2 separate regions of the Homo sapiens genome follow, and region 2 is linked to region 1. Evidence: fine-mapped expression QTL. A gene starts in region 1. The other region holds a variant in brackets. All regions are shown on one strand. Distances are from middle to middle.

The links. PIP is the estimated chance that this variant, and not a neighbour inherited with it, causes the effect.
Region 2: its variant is the best candidate, but not a certain one, in a credible set for the expression of CTSV in iPS cells (PhLiPS, PIP 0.68).

Annotation. Positions count from the first base shown.
Region 1 is chr9:97,036,310-97,041,692 of GRCh38, reverse strand. It overlaps CTSV (cathepsin V), which reads left to right and starts at 2,551. Exons shown (of 8, transcript NM_001333.4): 1 at 2,551-2,622; 2 at 3,640-3,775; 3 at 4,078-4,200; 4 at 4,295-4,441; 5 at 4,946-5,170. The coding sequence starts at 3,650. RefSeq lists a silencer at 2,207-2,516.
Region 2 is chr9:97,284,057-97,289,439 of GRCh38, reverse strand. SUGT1P4-STRA6LP-CCDC180 (SUGT1P4-STRA6LP-CCDC180 readthrough) reads right to left here. Exons shown (of 45, transcript NR_036529.1): 9 at 1,705-1,780. It also overlaps the pseudogene SUGT1P4-STRA6LP. Among named protein-coding and RNA genes, the nearest start is that of CCDC180, 21 kb to the left of the region's middle. The variant A/G (reference allele first, on the strand shown) is at 2,568.

The DNA.
Region 1 (5,383 bases):
AATTTTTAAAAAAGAAAAAAAACAGCTATTTGCAGTACAAGATGCTTTTTTTTTTTTTTTGAGACGGCAAATTTGCAGTACAAGTACAAGATGCTTTTTTTTTTTTTTTTTTTTTTTTGGGACGGCATCTCGCTCTGTCACCCAGGTTGGAGTGCAGTGGCGCATGCTCTGCTCCGCTCACTACAACCTCAGTCTCCCAAGTAGTTGGGACTACAGGCATGCATCACCATGCCTGGCTAATTTTTGTTTGTTTGTTTTGTATTTTTGGTAGAGGTGTGATTTCGCCATGTTGCCCAGGCTGGTCTCAAACTCCCAGGCTCAGGAGATCCACCTACCTTGGCCTGCAATACAATATACTTTTGTATTTTTTATATAACCACCTGACAGCTTTGGCCCCTAGTTGTATTTGAGAGGGAAAAGCTGCTATTTATTTAAAGGAAGGACATATAATTATTAATAAATTGATTTTTAAAAAGATGTATTTGCCTGATGGTGCTTCTGAAAAGTTGTCAGTTTAATTGTTTTTAATTTGTTAAAAGAAAATCCATAGCCAAATTAAATTTAAGAGAATTTAATTGAGCAAAAAACAATTCGTGAATCTGGCAGCCTCCAGTGCCAGAGTAGGCTCAGAGAGACTCCAGTGCAGCCACATGGGGGAAGATTTATAGACAGAAAAGGGCAAGTGAGGCACAGAAACTGCAGGATTGGATACAGCTCCATGTTTGCCTTATTTGAACATGGTTTGAACAACTGAACCTCTTTGATTTACAGAAATTCGGGGATAGGCACAAGAGCAGGCTACAGTCTGTTTACACCTCCATTTAGATTACAATTCGCTATGTACAGAGAAACCTTTAGGCCAAACTTAAATCACATGGGGAGGCAGCTTTAGGCTAAACTTGATTTCACAAATTTTCAAATTAACAAGTAAAAACTGTGGATATTATTCAATTTAATCTTTAAGAGTTTATTAATCAATATGCATTATAACTTCATTTTTGTAAAAACAAAAAAAGATATGCCTAGAAAAGGGTTATGGAGAGGGCACAAGGGACGTTTATTTTCTAAAACATATTTTTTATAATGGATTTTTTTATATAACTTTAAAAAGAATTAGAAACGTTTCTGAATTATTAATGATTTCCTTAAATCTTTAGCTACATATATTTCTCCATAAAGAGCAGTTCCTCAAACTGCATCACCTCAACCCTGATATTATATATTTTTATTTTTATTTTTATTTTTTGAGACAGAGTTTCGCTCTGTCACCAGTCTGGAGTGCAGTGGCACGATCTCAGCTCACTGCAACCTCCGCCTCTCGGGTTCAAGCAATTCTCCTGCCTCAGCCTCCTGAGTAGCTGGGACTACAGGCGCCCGCCACCACGCCCAGCTAATTTTTGCATTTTTAGTAGAGACAGGGTTTCACCATGTTGGCCAGGATGGTCTCGATATCATGACCTCGTGATCCGCCCGCCTCGGCCTCCCAAAGTGCTGGGATTACAGGTGTAAGCCACCGCGCCCGGCCGGTATTAAACATTTTTAAAGTAAATTTATTAAATCTCAAAAGAAGCACACTTTGAATACTGAGGAAGAGACGTTGTAACCCATAAGCAGAGAGTAGGTAAGTAAAAGCAATTTCCACCACTCTCAGACTGGGCGTAGTGGCTCACGCCTGTAATCCCACCACTTTTGGGAGGCTGAGAGGGGAGGATCGCTTGAGGCCAGGAATTCAAGAGCAGCCTAAGGAAACTTAGCCAAACTCCATTTCTACAAAAGAAAAATTTTTAAAGCAATTTATTTCACCATTCTCAACGCTTTTCTCTTTTTTATTAACCAAATATTTCTGTAACTCTTTTTTTTTTTTTTTTTTTTTTTTTTGGTATTGAAAGACATGGGAGAAGGAAGAATTCCTGAATGCAACAGACTGGGAAGGACGCACCACAAAACGCTCCGCGGTCTCTGGACACCCTATCAGCTAGTCCCGTCCCTCCTGGTGTCCGGTCTCGACCATCCATCCCGTGTTTTGGGAGTGCCTTTCCTTACCAGATTCTTCTAAAGCCCTGATGCACCCACCCTTAAGTGGAAGGTAATGCTTCTGCTGGGGGCTGTGCGTTCTTCCACTCCGTCCCACCTTTGCCGTGGACTAAACAGGAGCCACTGAACGAGAGTACCCTGGCTCCCGGCCCTGCAGATTTTCACCAAAAACTCTAGGACTAAGTTAAAGTAGGGACTGAAATACCACACAGAGCTCGCTGTAAACCACCCGCTCAGCGCAGTAAGTCGGGATAGTCAGTAGATCTGAGCCCTTGAGGGAGGCGCCTCCCCCTCCTCCGCGCAGCCCCCGGGCGCCCGGCCCAGCTTCCCGCAGCCAGGGTGTATTGAGGTAGGCGCGCCCAGACCTGAGACGGGTTGGGACTGGGCTGCGTCACGCGCGGGCTCTAAGCGCCCGGGGCCCCGCCCAGTGGCCGGCACAGCCAATCGCAGCGCGGGAAGGCGGTGGGGGCGGGGAAGGCCGCCTGGAAACTTAAATCCCGAGGCGGGCGAACCTGCACCAGACCGCGGACGTCTGTAATCTCAGAGGCTTGTTTGCTGAGGGTGCCTGCGCAGCTGCGACGGCTGCTGGTGAGCGCCCCCGACCAGACCGAGGGACAGGGCGAAGGGGGACTGGAGGAGGGAACCCCCCTTTAGGGACACTGAGAGGAGGCGGGCGCTTCTGGGAGTGAGAGCTTCTGCCCGGAGCTCTGCCAGCCTCGAGGTGGGGAACGGGGGAGGGCGGTTGGAGACCCCAGGGAGGCGCCGGCACCACTGGGAGGGCCCGGGCGGGGCAGGTCAGTCATCCTGTGGGCTGAAGCCGGACCGGACCGGGCGGCTTCATGCCCCCAGCCTGGCCGCGGAGCCCCCGCTCCCTGCACCGCCGCAAACATTCTCGGGGCGCGGCGGCGCGTGCAGAGGGCGAGAGCAGGCGGTGCGGCCCCGGTCCTGGCCCGCCCGGAGCTCCGGGAGCTGCCTGCCTCGGTCCGGGCCCTGGCCCTGGGGCCCCTGGCTTCCAGCGGCGCGGCCTTGTGACCCTGCCCCGGTTTAGGGGAGCGAGTAGCACAGACCCAAGTGTGGGACGGCGGGAATAGTGGGTGCTCTCCTTCCCAGTGTCTCCTGGAAAGGGATTCCCGAAAGGTTTTATTCCAAAAGGAGAGGTTGGAAGACATAGCTCATCTCCTGCTGTGTATCAGCCAAGAAGGTGTGAGGTGGTGTTCCTTGGGGATCCGCTTGCATCTACTTGGGATGGTACGTCTTCATTAGTGAGGTTTTGCCTGGATGACCTCAGTACAATTGGTGCAAAACCTGGACCAACTCTTTCCTAGTTTTCTAGTTGTTGCCTTAAGCTTCTCACCCGTCAGGTATCTTTCACACCCTTCTCATACCCTAAATTATCGCATATGCTGTTTCAACGCCTCCAACTCTGCAGGCTGCTTTTAATTTTGGTGGGCCCATCAAATACCTCCACTTGGCCTGTTTCAGCCTCTTCCACAGTCCTTGGGGAAATGCTAGGGAGAATAATTGAAATATTTCTATTCCACGGGGGCTGTAAGATGGCTTTTTAGGATTGGTCTAATCAGATACTCATTTCTTTTCTCTTTCTAGGTTTTGAAACATGAATCTTTCGCTCGTCCTGGCTGCCTTTTGCTTGGGAATAGCCTCCGCTGTTCCAAAATTTGACCAAAATTTGGATACAAAGTGGTACCAGTGGAAGGCAACACACAGAAGATTATATGGCGCGGTTGGTAACATCTGAAACTGTCCAGAGGGACTCTGGAGAGAATGGTCCTCGCTGTTGGGAGTTGATAGCCAGAGAGTAGCTTCTAGACACCAGACCTTACCAGGCAATAACCTAACAGCACCCATTATAGGTGCAATATGGGCATATATCTCCATTGTGTCTTGGCTTGGAGAACAGCTCCCAGAGAAGTATCAACCCATCCCTGGCCATGGTTTCTCTTCCATTTCTGCCCGCAAATCGGCTTGGTGAACATGGGTTGGGTAAGTAGACATAAAGTCCACCAGCTATATGTTTGCCTCTAGAATGAAGAAGGATGGAGGAGAGCAGTGTGGGAAAAGAATATGAAAATGATTGAACTGCACAATGGGGAATACAGCCAAGGGAAACATGGCTTCACAATGGCCATGAATGCTTTTGGTGACATGGTGAGTGTGGCAAGGATTGCTGAACTCTGTGCTGCTTCTCAGTTCTTCACCAAAATAGTCTTGCTTTTAACATTTTATTTACTTCTCCTTGAAGACCAATGAAGAATTCAGGCAGATGATGGGTTGCTTTCGAAACCAGAAATTCAGGAAGGGGAAAGTGTTCCGTGAGCCTCTGTTTCTTGATCTTCCCAAATCTGTGGATTGGAGAAAGAAAGGCTACGTGACGCCAGTGAAGAATCAGGTGAGACAGCGTCAGATTCAGACCCTGTCTCCACAGGAAAGCCAAGAAGGAATTGGTGTCATTGCTGTGGTAGATGGTGGCACAACATATGGTGATGGGTTTTTTGTATTTTTGGTTTTTGGTGTTTTTTTTGTTTGCTTGTTTGAGACGGAGTTTAGCTCTTGTTGCCCAGGCTGGATTGCAATGGCGTGATCTCGTCTCACTGCAACCTCTGCCTCCTGGGTTCAAGAGATTCTCCTGCCTCCACCTCCCGAGTAGCTGGGATTGCAAGTGCTCACCACCATGCCCAGCTAATTTTTGTGTATTTTTAGTAGCGACAGGGTTTCACCATGTTGGCCAGGCGGATTTCAAACTCCTCTCCTCAAGTGATCTGCCCGCCTCGGCCTCCCAAAGTGTGGCGATGGGTTTTTTTTTTTTTTAAAGAATATTAAGGTAATTCAATTATGGGGTACTGTATTTGTATTGGTCTTGTAAATTTACAGCTTTTTTTTTCTCCCTTTTTAGAAACAGTGTGGTTCTTGTTGGGCTTTTAGTGCGACTGGTGCTCTTGAAGGACAGATGTTCCGGAAAACTGGGAAACTTGTCTCACTGAGCGAGCAGAATCTGGTGGACTGTTCGCGTCCTCAAGGCAATCAGGGCTGCAATGGTGGCTTCATGGCTAGGGCCTTCCAGTATGTCAAGGAGAACGGAGGCCTGGACTCTGAGGAATCCTATCCATATGTAGCAGTGGTAAATGGAGCTCCTTATCTTGTCATTCGTGCTCTGCTTTTGGAAAGTGGAACACTTTCAGAGATAACAGATACTTTTTTCAGAATTCACATTTTATATGGTAGAATCTACATCTGCAAACCGTGAGTATTGTCATTATAAATTATTAGCCTTTGGCCAGGCGTGGTGGATCACCTGTAATCCCAGCAGTTTGGGAGGCCGAGACAGGCGGAT
Region 2 (5,383 bases), 250 kb before region 1:
ATATTTGTGTCCTAGTTTTTTAATTTCACATTCTCTCTCCAGCAGTTTTCAGCCTGTTTTGTACTTTTCATGACCACTAAATTGGAAAGACTTGGAACAAATACAGAATGTAAATATCTCAATAATAATTTTTGTATATATTACATGTTGAAATGATAATATTTGAGATATATTGGATTAAATAAAACATTATTAAGACTAATGTAACCTGTCTATTTTTAGTTTTTAAACAGAGGCTACTAGAACTTTCAAAATTGAACATGTGAATTTCATTTTGTTTCTGTTTGGCAGCATGGAGTTGAGTGTGGTACCACCAATACATACAACACACACAGAGCACACACTCATATTTGCATTGTGCATGGAAAATTTCTGGAAGTATGCACAGAAAACAGTTAACAGTGGTTATCTTAGGGCAAAAAATTAGGGGTTTGAGTAGGAGGAAGACTTACTTTACGCTAAACATTTTTTGTAATATTTTTTAACGCACCTGTATGTAGGTTGGAATAATAAAAACTACAATGCTGACACAATGCTAGTGCTCTACAGTTTGTAGTGTGTTTCTCATCCTTGGTGTCCTCTGCCCCATGGTTCTGATAAGGAAGCAGGGCAGGCATCATCACTCCTGGGTGACAGGTAGGGGCAAGGGCAGCCTGGACGGGAATGCAGGCCTCCTCTCCCTGTGCCCTTGGCCACACATCCATGTCCATGCAGCTTCCTTTGCATCGTGCTTGTCCCTGGTTGTGCTCAAATGTCTCAGTGAATATCTCCCAGCCACATGCAGACTAATGAGGGAAGGAGGAGACATGTGCACACATCAGGCAGGGCAGAGGTAGTAGCAGTATCCAGACCACCTGTGGGGTCCAATGAGAAGAAAGTAGAGAAAGGGAGCAAGGCAGGGCTGGTGGAGAGCTGGGACCCTTCATGCCAGGAGAGTCTTCTTGTGGGTGTCCTCTGCAAGAGACTCACCCTTTGGGCAGGCATAAGAGGAGGATGTAAAGGCAGGATGCTCTTCAGAGCTGGATATTGGCCTGGGCTTCCTGTAAGACTGTGTGTGTGTGCGTGCGTGTGTGCATGCATGTGTGTGTGTGTGTGTGTGTGTGAGAGAGAGAGAGAGAGAGAGGTGACCAGCAGGTACCTAAAACCCAACTGATATCTGCGTGCAAATGCTCACACCATGTTTAAAGCCATTCCCTCTTCCTATACTGCTTTTCTTGAGATGGATGTCCTTTGTCCCCTTGATTCAATATTCACTGATGTTCCCTTGAGCCAGATTCACCTGCTGGGGACCCAGTGTTACTAGCCCTGTAGAGCAAGGCAGGTCTGATACCCAATAGAGGTGTCTGAGTGTACAAGAAATAACAAGGTCTCTGGGGTCAGAAAGACTTGATCATCTGCTAATTGCTTGGGCAAGTTATTTAATCTGGTTGATTTTCAGCTTTCTCAACTGTAAAAATAGGGATGAAAGTACTTATCCCTCAGGGTTGTTGTGAAATTCAAGTGAAGACTCTAAGCATAATGTTAGCTCATTGTAGAAGTTCAAATCAATAATGCTTTTCTTCTTCCTACTAAAAGATGTGGTTAGTCCTGGACCTTGCATTCACTTCCTAGGCCCACTGCAGGCACTATTTGGAGATTCTGAGGAAAGCTTGTCATACATATTCCTGGTGAAAGACAAACAAATGACTCTGAGAGTACTCTTACCTGTAACAGACCAAAATGTGGAACAGATAGCTCACACACGTGAGATACGCGGGCAAAATGGTCGCCACCCAGACTCCTGAAATATGAAAAGTGATATGAGAAGCCTTGAAAAATAAACATGAAATAGAATTTTTAAAAATGCGGAATCCTGCACCAGAAAGTTCTAAGCAAATCAAGTAGACTTTAACACATTTCTTGTGTAAGTAAACTTTTGCTCATTTTCTGTTTTATTTTAGCTGCACACACGCTTAGTATAGTTCCTGCATACTCCTCTCATTTTGTACTAATATTTTCGCTCTACAGTGAAGAAAGGAAGAAAAGTTATGGAGTATTTCCCACATATCATACATAGCCTCTGTGCATGAAAAACATATTTGACCTCTAATTGCCACTTTTTTGGGAGGGATGTTGGTTATACCTCAACCGGGTACAAAGATAGCTGGGATCAAGATGTCTTGGCTATTCACTCACCCACCCTTCAGCAAGTTTTGATATTGAGAATCTAATTTGCTTTTAGAGAGATTGTGTGCGTTCATGAGAGAGGGATGTAGAAACAGGGAAGTAGGATGATTTGTTGGTTTAAAAACTTGTGTAGAGGCCGGGCACGGTGGCTCACGCCTGTAATCCCAGCACTTTGGGAGGCCGAGGCGGGTGGATCATGAGGTCAGGAGATCGAGACCATCCTGGCTAACAAGGTGAAACCCCGTCTCTACTAAAAATACAAAAAATTAGCCGGGCGCGGTGGCGGGCGCCTGTAGTCCCAGCTACTCGGGAGGCTGAGGCAGGAGGATGGCGTGAACCTGGGAAGCGGAGCTTGCAGTGAGCCGAGATTGCGCCACTGCAGTCCGCAGTCCGGCCTGGGC[A/G]ACAGAGCGAGACTCCGTCTCAAAAAAAAAAAAAAAACTTGTGTAGAAGTTGATTATCAATAGGTGCAAAAAAAGTATTTGACAAAATCCAACATCTCTTTACAATTAAAAACATTCAACATCTGGTGTTCTGTTGCACAGTACAGAAACTATAGTTAACAATAATGTGTTGTATATTTCAAAATAGCTAGAAGACAGGATTTCGAATGTTCTCACCATAAATAAATGATAAATGTCTGAGGGGATGGGTTTACTCATTTAATCATCAGTCAATGTATATACATATCTAAACATCACATTGTATCTAATAAATATGTACAATTTTTATGTGTCAATTAAAAACAAAACAAAACAAAACAAAACACTACTCAACCTATTAGGAATACAAAATAACTTCCTTAGCCTGATAAAGAGCATCTGCTAAAAACCCACAGCTAACATCATACTTAGCAGTAAAAGACTGAATGCTTTCCCCCTAACCTCAAGAACAACAACAACAACAAAAAAACATATCTACTCTCCTCTAGCCAAAATTGTACTAGAGGTTTGAGCCAGTGCAATTAGGCAAGAAAAAGAATATAAAATGCATCCAGATTGGAAAGGAAAAAATAAAACTCTATTCACAAATGCCATGATCTCATATATAGAAAAAGCAGGAAATATACAAAAAAACTATTAGAACTAATAAATGAGTACAGTAAGGTTTATAGAACACAAAAGAAATATATAAAAGTCAATTGTATTTCTATACACAAGCAATGAACAATCTGAAAATGAAATAAGAAAATGATTGCATTTACAATAGTATCAAAAATAATAATATTAAATTTAGCAAAAGAATGTAGAACTCATACACTGAAAACCACAAAAGATTTTGAAAAAAATTAAAGAAGACATAAATTACTGGGAAGACTTCCCATGTTCACATATAGGATATTCATTGTTAACACAGCAATACTACACAAATGGATCTATAGATTCAACTCAATCCCTATCAGAATTCAAATGCCATCTTAGCATTAATTGACCAGCTAATCCTAATATTCATATAAAATTGAAGGAACCAAGAATAGGCAATAAAATTCTGTAAAAGAAAAAGAAAATTACAGGACTTGCTGTTTCTAATTTCAAACTTACTACAAAGTTACAGTAATGAAGGCACTGTGATACTGACATAAGGACAGACAAATAGATCAATGGAATAGAATTGAGAATCCAAAATAAACCCTCATACTTATGGTCAATTTATTATCAACACAGATGACAAGACAATTCAATGGGGCAAAAATGTGTTTTTTGACAAATGGTGCTGGAACAACTTGATATTCACATGCAAAACAATGAAATTAGACTCCTACCTCAAACCATACATAAAAATGAGCTCAAAATGGATCAAAGGCCTAAATGTAAGAGCTAAAACTAAAAAAGTCTTAGAAGAAAATATGAGAAAAATCCCTGTGACCTTGGGTTAGACAATGATTTCTTAGATATGACACCAAAAGCACAAGTGACATAAGAAAAAACAGATATGTTTGGCTTCATCGAAATTGGAAACATTTGTGTTTCAAAAGATATCATCAAGAAAAGTGAAAAAGTAACCCACAAAATGGGAGAAAACATTTTCAAATCATGTATCTCATAAGGGATTTGTATACAAATTATTAAGCACACTTACAGCTCAATAAATAAATAATGCAATTTTTAAATCATCAAAGAATCTGAATAGACATTTCTCAAAAGAATATATACAAATGGCCAGTACGTGTAAAAGTACATGTAAAGATACCAAACATTATTAGCCACTAAAGAAATGAAAATAAAAACAATAGTGAGATTCCACTGCATCTCCACTAGATGGCTATAAACAAAAAAGATGGATAATAATAAGTGTTGACAAGGATGTGGAGAAATTGGAATTTCCACAATGCTGGTGAGACTAAACAGTGATACAGCTGCTTTTGAAAACAGTCTAGCAGTTCTCCAAAAGGTTAAACATAGAGTTTTCATGTGTTTAACCGGCTATTCCACTCCTAGATATATACCCAAAATATGTAAAAAAAAAAAAATATATAATACTTGTACATGAATGTTCCTAGCAGTCTTATTTGTAATAGTCAAAAAGTTACAGCAACCCAAATTTTTATCAACTGATGAATGAATAAATAAAATGTATATTCATAGAATGGAACAGTAATTGACAATAAAAAGGAATAAAAAATAATTTAAAAATTTGGACACATGCTGTGATATGGATGAACCTTGCTACATGAAAGAAGCCTGTCACAAAGGGTGACGTATTGTAAATAGAAGGAATAAGTTCAAGAGACCTATTGTACAACATGGTGACTATAGTTCATAATGATATATTATATTCTACAAAAATGCTGAATGAATGTTAAGTGTTCCATCACAAAAATTGTAACTATTTGAGGTAATATATTTGTCAATTAGCTAGATTTAACCATTTTAAAATGATATATACTTCAAAACATTATGTTTTACAGAATAAATGCATACAATTTTAGAAGTCAGTTTAAAAAATAAATTTGAAAAAGAGATGACATTATCACATTATTCCATTTCTATGATAGAGCTGGAATAGGCAAATCCATAAGGATAGAAAATAGATTCATAGTTGTTTAGGACAGGAAAGGTTGGAGGGAAATGGGTCATGATGTTTTGGGGAGGTGATGAAAAATGTTCTAAATGGTTGCACAATCTTGAGAAAATACTAAAAACCATTGAATGGTACACTTAAATGGATGAATGTATGGAATGTGGGTTATGTCTCCATAAAGGTGTTTCAAGGCCAGGTG